Linked DNA regions of Homo sapiens: region 2 is linked to region 1. The links come from fine-mapping of genetic effects on gene expression. Tissue or cell type: whole blood. Region 1 holds a variant in brackets; the other region holds the start of a gene. All regions are shown on one strand. Distances are between the middles of the regions.

Evidence for each region. PIP is the estimated chance that this variant, and not a neighbour inherited with it, causes the effect.
Region 2: VDR starts here. The variant in region 1 is fine-mapped to the expression of VDR in whole blood (INTERVAL, PIP above 0.99).

Annotation. Positions count from the first base shown.
Region 1 is chr12:47,840,677-47,848,776 of GRCh38, forward strand. It overlaps VDR (vitamin D receptor), which reads right to left. Exons shown (of 10, transcript NM_000376.3): 8 at 5,981-6,132; 9 at 5,659-5,775; 10 at 861-4,329. The coding sequence ends at 4,070. Among named protein-coding and RNA genes, the nearest start is that of LINC02354, 16 kb to the left of the region's middle. RefSeq lists enhancers at 2,533-3,106, 3,107-3,679, 5,204-5,705. The variant A/G (reference allele first, on the strand shown) is at 4,298.
Region 2 is chr12:47,900,652-47,908,751 of GRCh38, forward strand. It overlaps VDR (vitamin D receptor), which reads right to left and starts at 4,343. Exons shown (of 10, transcript NM_000376.3): 1 at 4,304-4,343. RefSeq lists an enhancer at 2,753-2,952 and a silencer at 4,336-4,465.

The sequences.
Region 1 (8,100 bases):
GCTACATAAGATCCTTCTAACAGTGTATCAGAACTCCATTCTCCACATTTCTCCAGCCAGAGACATGCCCATTTATGCAGCTGTTGATTTCCTTTCTCTAAGTCCCTTCATGTTTCACAAAATAACCCTCAAGTTCTAACCCCAATTCCCCTAAGTCCATCTCATCCCACTGAAACACATTTTAGCCTTTGGTTTGAAATATTTTCAGATGTTTCTGAAAAATTAGAGTGAATCACATCCCCAGGCCAACTTATCCTCAATCAATACATTAGCTGGCATGATTTCCTTATTTTCAGATCACAATGCTGTGTTCTTGTTTACTGTGCCTAGCAATGCTACCCTTCATCATAAACCCCACTTCCTTGGGAAGCAGAATGGAGTGCATCGGCATAAGTTGGGCCCCTTAGGAGTCCTGTTTCTGCACAGCAGTCATTTGTAATCCTCCAGGTCACTGGCACAGCCGCCATCTCTAATGGCAGACACAGTTTTGCCAGTAGCTGTTTGGTTTTCATTTTTGAGGGTCTCACGTAGGTGTCATATATTGACTGCACACTTCCTGGGAGTAGAGCACAGTTTGGTCCAGCACCTCTAATTTTCCTGGCTCAGGGCCTGCTTTAGGAATGGGAACCTCTTTTATCTCCTCTCTAGGAGAGAGCTAGCAAGACCATCAGTCGTCTGTCAGGTCCCCCAACTCAATAGGAAGCAGGACAATGTAGCAGTTAATTTGTGGCTTCTGAACCTAGCTGCTGAAGGTTCAAATCCCATCCCTTGCTAGTGTGGCATTGCTCAAGCTATCCTTTCTGTCAAATGGGGGTAATAATGATTCATCTCCCATAAGGTCCTTATAAGGATAAGGCAAATTGGTTTGCATAAAGCATTTATTTACAGCAGTACTTGCAACAAAGTAAGTGCTATATAAGTATGAGCCATTTTTATTACCATAAGCAAAGCTTTCTACATTGGTTGACTTGACAAACTTCTGGCAAACTTTTTTTCTCTTTGGAAATCATTCAGCAGGCACTGTTTACATCCTTTCGCTGCCATATCTCTAGCTTTCACTAAATCTGCCACACATTCCTGCCTTCTCTGTTGACCTCGCTTGGATTCTCCTACATGCTTCCAGTTAGCCAGCCAGAGGATTTTCCTGTCTCTGGGAATCTTGTGGAAAATCTTGCATTTTGGGGCACCTTCTCCTTCAGTTATAATGATATACCTTAAAAGTTTTACATTTACAAATGTCTATTTCACACTCTCATTCTAAAGTAGAATCGATGATGACCTTTTCTCCCCGTTCAGCCCCATAAAAACTCATTTTCCCCTCTTTTCTTTTCCTCCCAGCTCCTAGACTTCCTTTGGAGGAGTGGCCTAGGTGGTGGGGCCCAGGGCTGAGTAACTGATATTTCCAGGAGTTCCCCGAAGAAGGCAGGGCCAGAGGGAGAGCTGGGAAGGTGGTGACATTACAAAGACAAATGCATGTTATAGATGAGGCAACAGCATTATCCAAGGCTGAGGTGGAGAGCCCAGCAGGCCAGGGCCACATCGTGGTGGGGTAGGGTCTGATTCACATTGAGGCAGAGGTGAGTCTCCTTCCTTCTCCTTCTGATGGGTTGGTGGAGTTACAAGCCAGGGAAGGAAGGAAAGGGTCCCAGATCCAGACTTGCTCTTTCTGAAATCCAGGGCTTCCCCCAGGGACTGGGTCAGCCACCTGGGGAATGAGAGTGGGGGTCTGAGCTCAAACATGGTGTAGTGAAAAGGACACCGGACCATGACTCCAAAATCTGGTCCTGTCCTGGTCCACTTCTAAGACGGAGTTTCGCTCTTGTTGTCCAGGTTGGAGAGTAACGGCACGATCTCAGCTCACTGCAACCTCCACCTCCTGGGTTCAATTCTTCTGCCTCAGCCTCCTGAGTAGCTGGGATTACAGGCTTGCGCCACCATGCCCGGCTATTTTTTTTTTTTTTTTTTTTGTATTTTTAATAGAGACAGGGTTTCTCCATGTTGGTCAGGTTGGTCTCGAACTCCCGACCTCAGGTGATCCACCTACCTCGACCTCCCAAACTGCTGGGATTACAGGCGTGAGCCACCGCGCCGGGCCTGTCCTGGCCCACTTCTAGCTAGTTATATATGCTTGGGTGAGTCACGCCCTCCTCTGTCAGTTTTCCTGAATGAGGGGATTGACTCGTTTAGCAACTTACAAGTGTTTTCTCCCACTGAAGAGCAAGCTGGACCAATACGTTCTGCAGCTAAAATCAAACAAGGGTCTCTCCCTAGACCCTTGTAAAATAACAACAGCAATAATAATTAATGTACAGAAGTTTCACAATGTAAGTTCTCCCCCCATAAATATCTCCAAATCAGTGGTACCTGCTACCCTGTATATTAGACTATAATACAAATGGAGTCTGAGTCTGAAAACAACTCATATCTAATAAATTTAAGATTAAGCGATATATATGCTATTCTGCAGTAAGGAACGTGGCTTTCAGATGTTTTTCCACCTGAAGAATTCTGAGAGACATGGGGCCAGGTGGACACCAAGGCTCTTGCAGTGTGAAGTCTGATTCCTCTCTGGGTTTTCAGGGAACTACGGATGCAGGTGCAAGGACACAGCTTCCAGGAGTTGGGGCAGTCACGTTCCCACTGACTTTAACATTCCTGGTGACTCAGGGAATGCGGCCGCATTCCCCAAACTCAAGCACTGATCTGAAGAAGCCTCTGTGATCCACCTCGAAGAACGCCTTTCTGTACCGGTCCCGCACACCTACAGCTCACTCTCACAAAGACCCCACCTTGGAGTAAACGGACAGACGCTTCCCACCAGCTGGGCTGGGCTGGCTGCAGAGAGCATGCACTTGAAGTTGTATCACTCCGCCCCTGCCTCACAGGCACCTTTTGACTTTTGGGTGGTGGAGTGAGAATAAGAAGGCACCTTACCCTACATCACGGAACCCCCAAACACTCTCTCTGACTAGCCACCCGAGACTGCCCCGCTCTCCCTTCCCACACTCTGGGGTGCGGCAGCGCTAGCTCTTAGCCCTGTGGGTGAACAGCGGCCTTGCAACCACATTGAGGCGGCAGGGAGATCATGACTCAGCCGCTGGGGTCTGAAAATTCTTCTCCTCCATCCCACCCTGCCAGATGGAGAAGATGCGGCTCACTGCTTCTCCAGACCCTCTCCCCTGGGGAGGGGGTGGGGGAGCAGGCTCTCGGCTACTCTCGGTGATCCGAGGAGGACAGGGAGGGCTGGCTCTCCTGGGCAGGAGGTAAGGCACTGGCAGGGGGAGGACGAGGTCGGCAGGTGCTTTTCTGCAAACTGGGGACAATTCAGTCCTGCTACATGGATCCGTGGAAGGAGGGCTTCCACCTCAACCAACCCCTTAGACCCAGGGCGAGGAACTGTGAGCTTGGTGACAGGGACAGCTGTCATATTCTTCTGTGAGGCTGTTTTTGTCTGTTTTTCCTCCTTGGGTCTCTCAGCAGGTGGGTTCGTGCCTGGTGCTCCAGTGATGGGAAGAAAACCCACCTCACCACAGCTACTGCCCGTGAGAATATAACCAGGGCAATGGGATGTTGGTGGGCACTGAAGGGGGTGGGGTGGGAGCTGTGGGCCGATTATTTATCGTGAGTAGGCAGGAGAGGGAGACCCCACTAGGCGCTGGACAAGCGGGGCCTGCAGTGGGGGGAGGTGCAGGTGTCTCTGTCCCTGAGGAATGGATGCATTTCTCCTGTCTGTTCCCTCAACATCAGTCAGCAGCCACTTAGGCAGCGGTGGAGGCATCTCTGGGCAAGGCCCTGCCTCCAGCCTCTGCCCTCTGCCCCCACTTGGGTTTCTTTGTCAAACAAACAGCAACTCCTCATGGCTGAGGTCTCAAGGGACCGGGGAAAAGCCCGCAGGAAAGGGGTTAGGTTGGACAGGAGAGAGAATGGGCTGGGTGGATAGGGGAGGTGGCAGAGGAGGGGCTGAACCCCAGACGGGGTGAGGAGGGCTGCTGAGTAGCCGCCAGCCCCGGGCCTGGCACGTGGCCCTGGAGGAGCAGCCCCACCCAGGCACCGCCACAGGCTGTCCTAGTCAGGAGATCTCATTGCCAAACACTTCGAGCACAAGGGGCGTTAGCTTCATGCTGCACTCAGGCTGGAAGGAGAGGCAGCGGTACTGCTTGGAGTGCTCCTCATTGAGGCTGCGCAGGTCGGCTAGCTTCTGGATCATCTTGGCATAGAGCAGGTGGCTGCCCGGGGGCGGGTGGCGGCAGCGGATGTACGTCTGCAGTGTGTTGGACAGGCGGTCCTGGATGGCCTC[A/G]ATCAGCGCGGCGTCCTGCACCCCAGGACGATCTGTGGGCACGGGGATAGAGAAGAAGGCACAGGAGCTCTCAGCTGGGCCCCTCACTGCTCAATCCCACCACCCCCCACCCACACAGACACTCAACGGCAGCACCCCCTAGGCCACCCCTCTATGACTGCTGACCGGTGATACCACTGCCTGGCCCCAAAGCCCTCCAGTGACTTCTCCGTGCATTTAGGATCCAGACCTAGGTCCTTCCATGGGCGCACCTGGCCCTGTCCCTGCCTGGCCTTGCTCCCTGTCCATGCTCTGTCCATCCCTCAGCGTCCCGATGCGCCATGCTCTCTGGCCACCAGCCTTCACATCTGTGCTCCCTCTGCTTGGAACTCTGCTCTGCTATCTTTGCCAGACTCTTACTGATCCTTTGGATAACAGCTTAAAAGGTCTTCCTCCAAAAGGCCATTCCTGGCAACACTCTACCTCTGTAGCCCAGACCACGTCAGCTTCCCTCCTTCTATTCTACCCTTCTGTAGCATCACTTACTTTATTTTTAAAACTCTTGCCTTGTTAGGAATTAATAATTAAATAACATTTGTTTAATGTTTCCTCCTAAGCTTCATGGGAGAGGAGCCTGTGTCCCATTTGCTGCTGAACCCCAGTACCTAGCATAGTGCCTGGTACCTAATAGGTGCTCAATAAATTGTTGCTAAGTGGATGAATGAATGAGAGAAGGCTGGCTGGGCAGGGGTAGAGGAGCCCATCTCCATTCCTTGAGCCTCCAGTCCAGGAAAGCATCCCTGGGCACAGGCCACTAGCACAGGCTGAGGCAGGGCCGCCCCTCTTTGGACCTCATCACCGACATCATGTCCCCAAGGTCACAATAACTTCCTCTTCGGCCTTTTCTCCCTCTTCTCACCTCTAACCAGCGGAAGAGGTCAAGGGTCACTGCACATTGCCTCCAAAATCAATCAGGTAAACTATATAGGCAGAACCATCTCTCAGGCTCCAAAGTTTTGTACCCTGCCCGCAAGAAACCTCAAATAACAGGAATGTTGAGCCCAGTTCACGCAAGAGCAGAGCCTGAGTATTGGGAATGCGCAGGCCTGTCTGTGGCCCCAGGAACCCTGCTTATCTAGTTCCTCAGAATCCCCCCTACGAATCGCCTGCACACTCTGCAAGGCAGAGCTAAGGGCAGTGAGGGGCACCTCAGCGTCCACACACCACAGGGGCTCTGCAAACCAGCAAAGTAGGTATTTCCTTATCTGTGTCTCCTTTTGCTACGTCTCCCTTCAGGTTGCCCAGCTGGCCCTCAGCAGGTCTTTGTCCTTCATACTCCCCGCTCCCCAGGTCCCTGAGCTCCTCCCTGCCTGGCCCCATACCTGGGGAGACGATGCAGATGGCCATGAGCAGGACATGCTCCTCCTCATGCAAGTTCAGCTTCTTCAGTCCCACCTGGAACTTGATGAGGGGCTCAATCAGCTCCAGGCTGTGTCCGGCTGTGAGAGACAATGGCCAGGTACTGCGGGCAGAGCTGAGGAGCCGCCCACCCACCTCCAACCCCATGGGTCTGACCCTCGCCCTTCTCTCCCTGTTGGTGCCTAACTCCCTCCCATGTATCTGATTGGAGCCAAACCCCAGGACGGGTGGAGCCAGAATCTGGGAGCTGAAAAAGACTCCCCAGGAGGTGGAGTCTAGGCATACCTTTGGTCACGTCACTGACGCGGTACTTGTAGTCTTGGTTGCCACAGGTCCAGGACATGTCGTCCATGGTGAAGGACTCATTGGAGCGCAACATGATGACCTCAATGGCACTTGACTTCAGCAGTACGATCTGGTCCTCAGAGGTGAGGTCTCTGCAGGGGAGGGAGGGAAGGAGGTCAGGTTACCAGTAAACGCCTTCAAGCCACACAAATCAGTTTAGTGCTTTGACAGGTATACACCTGCTGGGCACCAACATGCACCCTGGGTCTTTCATCGAGGAGCTTGCAGGCTGGCTGGAAGGGACAAGAGTGTTCCTTGAGAGAGAACAGTTCAACACTGTGATCATGTGCCAAGGCCAGAAGTGAAGTAGCTCAGTTACTAAGACAAGAAAAACTCAGAGACCAAGCAGCCAGAGCTATGGGGCACAGGAAACGGAGCCCAGGGAAGTTCCCAGCATTGAGGCATGAATATGGTGGTCTGCAAAAGGTAGGGCCATGGTATCTTCAACAACACCCAAGTTTTCTCCTCCTCTCCCTCCTACTGTCCTCCAGTCCTTCTCAGTAGTAAATTCAGCCAACTCTGTCTCTAGGATGTCTCTCAAGCCCGTGATCTTATTCCCACTCCTACCAGGAGTGCCCTGGTTCAGAGCTCCAGCGTCTTTTCCAATAGCCTCTTACAGGAATCCCAGACTTGTGTCTCTCCAGTCTCTCATTCATCTTTCTTACCACTGCTGCAGGTCAATGTCCTCTTGCACTCAGAAATCTTCACTGACTCTCAAACACCCTAGGATCAGGCCCACACTCCCTAACTTGGCTCCAACCTCTCATTCCAACTCCCTTTCCCATGGTAAACTCCACCAACCTTCCATTCTAGCAGCATCATGCCACTCCACATTCAGATGCTGTGTGTTCTCACTGTGCCTTTTTTTTTTCTTGTGACAGGATCTCACTCTGTTGCTGAGGCTGGAGTGCAGTGTTATGATCATAGCATGCTACAGCCTCAAACTCCTGGGCTCAAGTGAGTCTCCCACCTCAGCCTTCCGAATAGCTAAGACTACAAGCATGCGCCACCATGCTCAGCTAATTTCTTTTATTAGTATTTTTAGAGACAGTGTCCTGTTCTGTCACACAAGCTGGAGTGCAACAGAATGATTATGGCTTACTGCAGCCTCAAACTCCTGGGCTCAAGCAGTCCTCCTGCCTCAGCCTCCTAAGTAGCTGGGACTACAGGTGCACACCATCACGCCTAGCTAATTTTTTTTGAGACGGAGTCTCACTTTGTCGCCCAGGCTGGAGTGCAGTGGCGCGATCTCGGCTCACTGCAAGCTTCGCCTCCCAGGTTCACGCCATTCTCCTGCCTCAGCCTCCCGAGTAGCTGGGACTACAGGTGCCCGCCACCATGGCCAGCTAATTTTTTTTTGTATTTTTAGTAGAGACGAGGTTTCACAGTGTTAGCCAGGATGGTCTCGATCTCCTGACCTTGTGATCTGCCTGCCTAGGCTTCCCAAAGTGCTGGGATTACAGGTGTACGCCTAGCTAATTTTTAAATTTTTTTTGTAGGGATGGTGTCTCACTATGTGGCCCAGGCTGGTCTCAAATTCCTGGCCTCAAGTGATCCTCTCATCTTGGCCTCTCAAAGAACCAGGGTTACAGGTGTGAGCCACTGCACCCAGCCATCACCACGCCTTTCAGCATACTACAGCTCCAGCCAGGAATACCCTTCTAATTCTCCATTTTGTTTTTCTGGTCCTGAATCCACTGTGTTTTCCACTGGAGCCCCGCACCTTCTGACTCTTTAGCACAGTTAGGGCCATGTCATTGTGATGCCTTGAACATTGCTGGTGCTCTTATTTTGCCCGTCTCCTCCAGTTCTGCTCTTTACATGCTTGTTTTCTACTCCTTTTTTTTTTTTTTTTTTTTTTTTTTTTTGAGACAGAGTCTTGCTCTGTTGCCCAGGCTGGAGTGCAGTGGTGAGATCTTGGCTCACTGCAACCTCCACCTCCCAGGTTCAAGCAATTCTCCTACCTCAGCCTCCTGAGTAGCTGGGATTAGAGGCACCTGCCACCACACTCAGCTAATTTTTGTATTTTTAGTAGAGACGGGGTTTCGCCATGTTGGCCA
Region 2 (8,100 bases), 60 kb after region 1:
CCAGTACCAGCAGGTGGCACACACTGGATGTGTCACCAGCAAAGCCTCGGGCCTCATGGGTATTCCACAGTGCCTGGAATGTCCCACCTTGCATAACACCTCCAAGCTCCAGGTTGTCATCAGAAGGCCAGTGAGAGGCAGCAGCTTCTCAGGAACCAACTGCCGAGTCTGCACAGACTCCGCTTTCCCGCCGGTGCAGCTGCCCACACCCTGCTTAGGACCAGGACTCTCCCCTGTGCAGAATGAGGACTTTGTATGGCATCTGGTTCTGGGAACACCACTTAGTCTATTCCCTGGCACAGGACCTGCAGGGCAGGTTTGCAAAAGCATGACACACATTCCAACTCACAGAGTACTGACTGCTTCTGCCTTCCACTCCTGCTATTCACCAACCAGACACCCCCATCCTCTCCCAGCCAGCCTTGGGGTGGGGCGGTCTCACCACCTACCCCCCTTGCCCACAAGTCACTTCAAAGACATGACTTCCCAAGAGATCTTCACTTGCACTTTTCATTTGTTGGCAGTGAGAATGACTTCCTTCCTGGCAGAGTAACTGAGAGTCACTACATGGTCATCGTGGCGGCTCTGCTCCCTCCACGCCTATGCCCGATCACCCACAGGCTGGACCTCTGGGGATCCCACCCTTTGCATCTGGACCATGAGGACCCAGGACCCAGAAGGCAGGACAGTTTCTCTTCCACATGTCGCCACAGCGGGATGCAGGCACTGCCATCAACGCCTGTCACTTGGATTGAGCAAGAACAGCCTCTCCCCACCCTGGACCATTTCCCCAATAGTCAGACCAGACCAAAGAGGCAAACTCTAGTGTCTTTGGGAACTGACTCTGTCTCCTGCAATGCAGCTTCTCCCTGGCTTTGGCCTCCACTTTGCTTTTCATTTCCCCGGAACCTGATTATAGGTGACCTATGTCCTTTATCAGAGTGGGCGAGGTTTGCCTACCCTTGCCTTCCTGGCTGCTTACCTGCTTTACAGCCAGACTTTCTGTGGGATAGTGTGGTCCCCAGAGGTCTGGGAAGCTGGATGAGCAAAATGTGGAGGCTGTAGATATGGAGGAAGAGGGAAGAGGAAACGTGAGGCCCAGTCTTGGCTCCACTATGAACCCCAATTTCCCCAGGGGAAGCTGAAGAGGAGTTGGCAGACCTTCCTGTCCCTGTCTGAGGTTGGGGTGGGGCAGGAAAACCAAAGGTGAGGCCAGTCACAAGTCAAGGGTGAAGGGAAGTCACACGAGTGGTGGGCTGGGTCCCAGGACAGGGTGGCCGGGAGCAGTGCCGCCCCAGGGAAAAGACGAGAATTGGCTGATAACACCAGGGAGCAGGCTAGGGTGTCGGGGGCTGTCCTCAGAATTAAGCTACCCCTGTTTTCCCTTGAGCATTAAGCCTCCCCCAACCTTATCATCCCCTCATCACTGCTGTGACCTCTGCTGAGTTTGGAGTGATGATCACTAGGGTGATTAATATTCCATTTTTCCCTGGAAAGTTTGGGTTTATGTCCATTGTCCTGGTATAACCATGCATGGCATCCCCTTTCACTCTCAGAAGTATCCCAGTTTGCAAGATACATTACACAGGCACTCTTTCTAGCATATCTAGGAGGGCACTGACACAGGAAAAGGTTAGGGACAAATCAGAGGGAAGCAAAATGACAAGCAAGGCCTTGGTGGCCCAGAGTGGCAGCCAGGCTGGCTTCAGCCCAGCTGGATCCTCTCAGAACTGGACAATAGTGGAGGGAGAGCCTGAGAACTGCTGCCCACCCTGGGGCTCAAACTGTCTTGGAGTCAGGGGCCTGGTCTGGTGGGTTCTGCTTCCTGCTATCCCTCAGAGGGCCTGGAGTCATGCTGGGCACACAAGAGGCTCTTAATCAAATCTGGTCAATTCCTTATTTCCCTCTACCTGCATCCAAAACAGAATTGCAGCAGGGACAAATGGAAGCTGGAGCCCTGTAATTCTTTATTCAGCAACACACCAAATGTCATCTAGGTGGTCCTCCCGTCTCTGGCTCTCTGGCCCCTAGGACCTGACTGCTGCACAGGCAACAGCGAGTTTCTAGCAGAGGTTCCAGATGCCTATTCCAGCCAGGACAGCGGTGCCTCCTTAGGATGTGGGGTAAGGAATGAAACAATGGGAACTCCCTTTCGTGTCTTAGATAACCACCTGATGTAGTAGCCACCTGATGTAGCCCACTCGGTCCCAGGCCTTTCTCCATTCACAGCCTGGGCTTTGGACACCTGCTATCTGTTCTGGGGGTAGAGTGTAGGGGTTCAGGAGGTCCTCTCGGAGCTTCCTCTGGGGCTTAGTTACAAAAGAGATCAGTTTTGAGGTCAAATAGGGGAAGAATACTGAGAAACCATAAACACAAACTATCAGGGCACCCCAAACAGCACCCGACCTTCCATAATGTTTATACAAACAAAGTCTGATGGCCTCTGCCGAAGAGGAGTAAAGGGTTGGGAAGGCTTTCTAACTCTCATTTTTTCCCCTCCTTTCTTACCCCATTTTCTAGTCCCTCCTTTAGCTTGGTAAGGGTCCAAGTCACAGCTGATCAAGACCAGCCAAACCCAAAGCCATGGGACCCAGCCAGAGCATAGACTGTGAATTCCCCAGCTTTTTGCAGTTTGAGTCAGCCCCACAGCTGGATTGGCCTCCCAGGACTCTTCTCAAATAGGTCCAGAGAGGCTGCTGAGTGGGGGCCACGGACTCTGCAGGGAGGGCTACTTCTGTTCAACGATCTCTAGCACCCAAAACAAAAGCCAGGGAGAAATGTGCAGTCTTACTACCTTCTGGTCTGGCTGCATGCCAGCCCTGAGACTGTTTCAGAAAGACTCACAGTTCCCTCCAGCACTTGGACAGGGAAGGGACGGCAGGTCTCTCAACACACAACACTCTTAGTCCATAGAATTGAGGCTCCAATGTTCAGATAACCCATTTCTACCTCAGCAAATCACCCTCACTCCCTAGCCTGAGTTAAAGCCTTCTTTGCCAACACCATGACTTCTCTGGCCCCAGACTTTCCTAATTTCTTTTGCTCACCCCCTTCACTAGCAGAGATGGGCTGCTAATGAGACCACTAGGCAGAAATGGAAGGAAGGGCTGGAAAAGCCTGCAGTGCTGGGATGCACCTCCTTATCCCAGGAGAAAGATGAGATGTAGATTTATCATAAAGCCACTATCCCTTCACGGTCACCTCCTGCTAGAATCATCTCATAGCCATTCCATAAGCACTGCTGTGTTGGGTATCTGAGCCCCTGCCCATGAGGAAGACCACCTTCCAGCAGGGAGCTGGAGCAGAGCTGAACTCTGCCCAGGAGAGCTTCTGCAATGCTCAGAAAATGCCTGCCCAACTGCTTGCCTGGGCTCTGGCCCCTTTGGCTGCAACTGAGCCCAGACAGGAGGCTGACTCACTCACCGCACGCATAGAGGAGGAGGAGGAACAAGAGGAGGAGGAGGAGGAGGAGGAGAAGGAGGAGGAACTGTGAGAAGGGTCTGGGCTTGGAGACCTAAGGCTCCCCCAGCCCAGGCTAGGTCTCAGACTCTGGTCCCTGGGTGAAGAGAAGGAGGGGCAGTTGTACACTGGCCCTGGAGACCACAGGCTGTTCCCTCCTAGATACTTCTGAATCTTCCTCACCACCACCCACAGATCCAGGGCACCTCACTTTTCAAACAGAAACTACTCCTTGAGCCCCTTCCTCATTTAAATGCTTGCCCCTGAGTTCCTCTGAACATCTATTGACAGGCTGTCCTGAAAAAAAATAGGGCCAATTAGGTCTAAACTCATTGGTAGTTCAAAGAAAAGTAAAAAAAAAAAAAAAAAAAAAAAAATTACTTAAAAGACCCAACTCCACCATCACAGGTGACCATACCTGGGCCCTGTAAGACAATAAATAAGGTTACACACCCTCCACTCCAGCAGTTCTGAGCACCATCGACAGCCAATCGCTCCTTTTCTTATTCCTCCACTCCATGCCAAGGCGCCCCGACAGAAGAAGGAAACAAATACTTCTTGTTGCCCAAGTGCTAAGCACTGTGTTAGCGGAGCATTTCTCCTAAGCGCCGAGGATGTCGCTGCTCCCCTCGCCAGCCTGGCACGAACTTCAGCTTTCTCAAACCTCAGTGCCCCTTAGTGTCCCAGCCTCATGGCACGACAGCCCGGACCTCAGTAGCCAAGTTTACCGCTGAGACTTAGACTCTAATGCTCGCAGCCGGGCGCTCAGGCCCCGGTATCCCAGACGCCCCGACCCCGAGTCCCTATCCTGAGACCCCCTTTCCCGCTGCTCCCGGGTTCGCACCTGGTCCGGCCGGCGGGTGGACAAGCTGTTCCGCGCTCCCGGCGCACACGGCTCCGCTGCCGCCTTTTGACAAGCAGAGACAGCCCAGCACCTGGCCCCGCCTCTCGGTCAGGCCCCGCCCCGGCCCCGCCCCGCCCCTCCGCCCCGCCCACAGGTCCAGTCCTCTCTTGCCAGGAGCTCCGTTGGCGCTGCAACCATCTTGACTTGGAATCAACCACCCTATAGGCCACGCTGTAGCCTTAGATACTCTAACTCGTGAAATTTTCATCGACCGTCGTCCATAGGGCAAGGCACGCTTCTGCCCTCTGTGGGACAGAGTTGTCGATGATTATAGGTGCGGATACCCGCTTCAGCCTGTGTTAATCGGGGATGCAGCCCCCCACCCTTCCTGCCGTGGTTCTACCCAGCCTGCTGCGGACGCCTGAGCCAGGTGCGTCACCCCCACCTGGGCTGACCAGGCCAGGACTTCGTCGTCCGCGGGACGCTGGGGGGCGCCTGCCGACTGGCACCGGCGGCTAGCTCCGCACGAATGGGAAATCCCGGGCTCCGCTCGCCAACCTGTTACTGCTGCAGAACGCCAGGAAGCTCAGCCTGATCCCACAGATTAGGGTAAAATATCCCGGGGGGCCGAAGTGGAAACCGGAGTTGCGTCATTGCTCCCACCCGATATCACCTTGGCAGCGACCGCGGCTGACCACGTTCCCGGCCTGTCGCGAATCTCACCCAAGGGAGCTGAGTCTCAGCTTCCCTGGTCCCTGGTCCCGAGTTCCGCCTTCCCCCCCCGCCCCGTGGCATCGGCGTGAGGGGAAAAGATAAAGACTACCTCCTGAGACCTGGAATTGTGGATGGCTGCGGAAAACTCACCACAGGAAATTTTGGCTTAAAGTTATTCTCTGCTTCCCTTGACTGTGTGATAGGCACCGCTCTATCTGCTAGAGGACAGGTGAAAAAGATGGGGTTCCCTCTTCTTAGAACTCACTGTGCAGTGGGAGAATGTATAAATAAATAGTAATTACAACATAATCTTCTGGAATAGAAATGCTCACAAAATCATCCAGCAGTCGATGACCTCCTTTAGCCAGGGAAGATATTGCTATTCGCCTCTTACAGAGGAGGAAACCATGGCTCAGAGGGACAAGGTGAAAGGGTGGGAAATTGAGGCATAGAAAGTTTAAGTGATATGCCCAACATGACTCAGCTAATCAATGAAGGACTAGTGCTAGAGCCCAGCAAATCTGCTGGTGCAATGGTCTCTGAACCATTTCTGAGACAGCTATGCTGGACTACATCATAACCAGCCCCTCACAACTCAATAATAGGGTTAAAAGAAATAGACTGAGATTAAATAGAAGGAAGAACCTTCCAACAGTGAAGTTTGTTAAGCACTGCAACAGTTCATTATGGAGGTATCATGGCAACTTTCTGGGAAGACTTAAACAAAAGACAGAAGAGAGGCATAGCGTTTGATTGAACTTGGGAATGGACCATTTATTCTGAGAAACAGATGAAGTGCCCCTTTAGAGGTCCTGCCAGTCTGATGGATGGATTCTCTACCTGTAATGAAAGTAATAGGAAGGATCCCCTTGCCCAAAGCATCGTGGGAAAGCTAGCGGTGATTCTTGTGGGAAGAAAAGCATAAGAGGAAATTTCCAACCACCAATACCTTGGGACATTCTCTGCAAGTCCCATGAGCCTCTGAAAGAGGTTGAACACTCAGAAGTCACTTTTGTGGTGCTTGACTGGCCTGACATCTTGCAAATAAACCTTATCAAAAGATGGTGGAAGATGCGTACTAAGTATTCCGTAGTAACTGAGAGTTAGTCTTTTTTCACAGCCTTTGTTGGAGGAGAGGTACTTGTAATTCACATGTGTAAACTGCTTTATAATTTAAAAATTCTTTGGAATATCTTACTTGATCTTTATCATAGCCTTTTCAGACATGAAGAGTAAAAAATACCGTTCCATTGTACAACTGATGTGCAGAGTTGTCAAGGTTTCTACAGCTGAGGAGTGTCAGAGCTACTGGACCCAGATCTTCTCTCTGCACATCCCACTGTTTCATGCTGCCTCTAAAAAACAAAAAAAAAATTTCCATGCATGCACTTTTCACAGAGTTGAAGAACTCAGAGGTTCTGCGTTTGGCAGATGGGCAAGATTATAGATGTCATCACGGTCCCCAGCACATGCCGTCATCAGCCCCGTCACCTTGTCTGTAACCATGTTCTTCCCATATTCCCCCAATACCTGAACTGTTCTCTCTCATCCACCTCTCCAGACCCTCTCCTCTTTCAGGTCCTGCCTATTCCATCAGGCTTTTCCAACATCTCCAGGAAAGGAACTGTCAATTCTCTGGTCTTTGTAGCGCATGCATTTTCTATATTGCATGGTTTGGCACCTGCTAATGAACCATCTTGTATTTACATTGAACAAAGATAGATTTTTTTTTGCCTGTTTTATTCTTAGAAGGAAGGTTATTTTGTGAAAGTAGAAAAGCAACATCATATGAGATTCACTTCTCCTGTGTTCTGTTGTAATCCCTAATTGTCTCTGGACCCTACTTCTCCCTAGCCAGGTACACAACTGGAAAGGGAGGTTGCTGTCCCACACCGTGTTCTCTTGATGCCTCGATGACAAGCACCATTCCTGCACTACAGAGTTAATAGTTTTAAATTCCCCTATCTTGACTTCTCCATAAACCAGGTACCAGAACCTCTGCAGAAGACATTAATTTTTCTTTTCCCTGAAGTTAACATTTCTCATATTCTCACTTATCCCTGGGATGGGTAGTGGTCTTTATTGGGATGTACAGATTGTTTTTTGTCAGTACTCATCTCTGCCAAATTACATCAGGGAATATCTCGTAAGCACTTGCTTGGTTAATATTAGCCAAGTCTGGTGGTGTGCTAGATACTCTGCTATAGTGCTATAGACTCAAAAATCTATATAGAAACAAAAGAGCCCTTCCCGGTGCATCTGACTTTGATGGAAAGATTCCAGAGGTACTAGGCTGAGGATTTCGTTTCATTCATTTCATTCCTGTGCATTTCATTCCACAGAGTCCAAAGAAAGGCAGGGCCTGGTCTCTTGACCTCTCTGCCAGGCTCCAGGCACCTGGGGATGGCCTGGGCAGTTGTGGCTACAGTCAGGCCACAGGACTGCAGCCTGTCCTCATCTCTGGGCTTCCTTTTTCTGCAGCCTGGCCACTGTCCTCGAGGCTGGCTGATGCTCTCTGCACTTCTTGCTGTGGTGTCAGAGCTAGAGTGGGTCACTTTGTCCCTGTGAGTCTCCCAGAGACCCTGTCCCCATGGACAGAGGTTTTTTGAGCTGTCTAAAGGCTGCTCTGCAGGTAAAAATGTGCCCTTTGAGCTCTCTCTGGAACACTCCCATCTGACTGTTTGTTTTTCCCTTTTTTAGGGCCATTTTCCCCCCTTAAATATTTTATGGTTATGAGCACGGTAGGACTGAAGAGAAGCCTCTCTTCAGTAAACACCCAGAGAACATTCTGAGAGACATGAGCGTGGAGTTAGAAAGACAGAAGGGACCAGGCCATCTTTTCAGTTTGTTCCCTTGTTTTAGAGATTTTTTAAAAAACACACGTTAAGTTCAGAAAGATTAATTCATTTATATTTCCTAACCCAAGTTAAGACAAAAAGGATCAGGGATGACTCTCCTTATTTATGTTCCAGATGGTAAAAATAGAATGAATAAATGTAAGAAGCTGTAGCAATGAAAGCAAACCAAGGGGTCTTCCCAGGACAGTATTTTTCAAAATTTTAACTGCAACCCATAATAAGAAA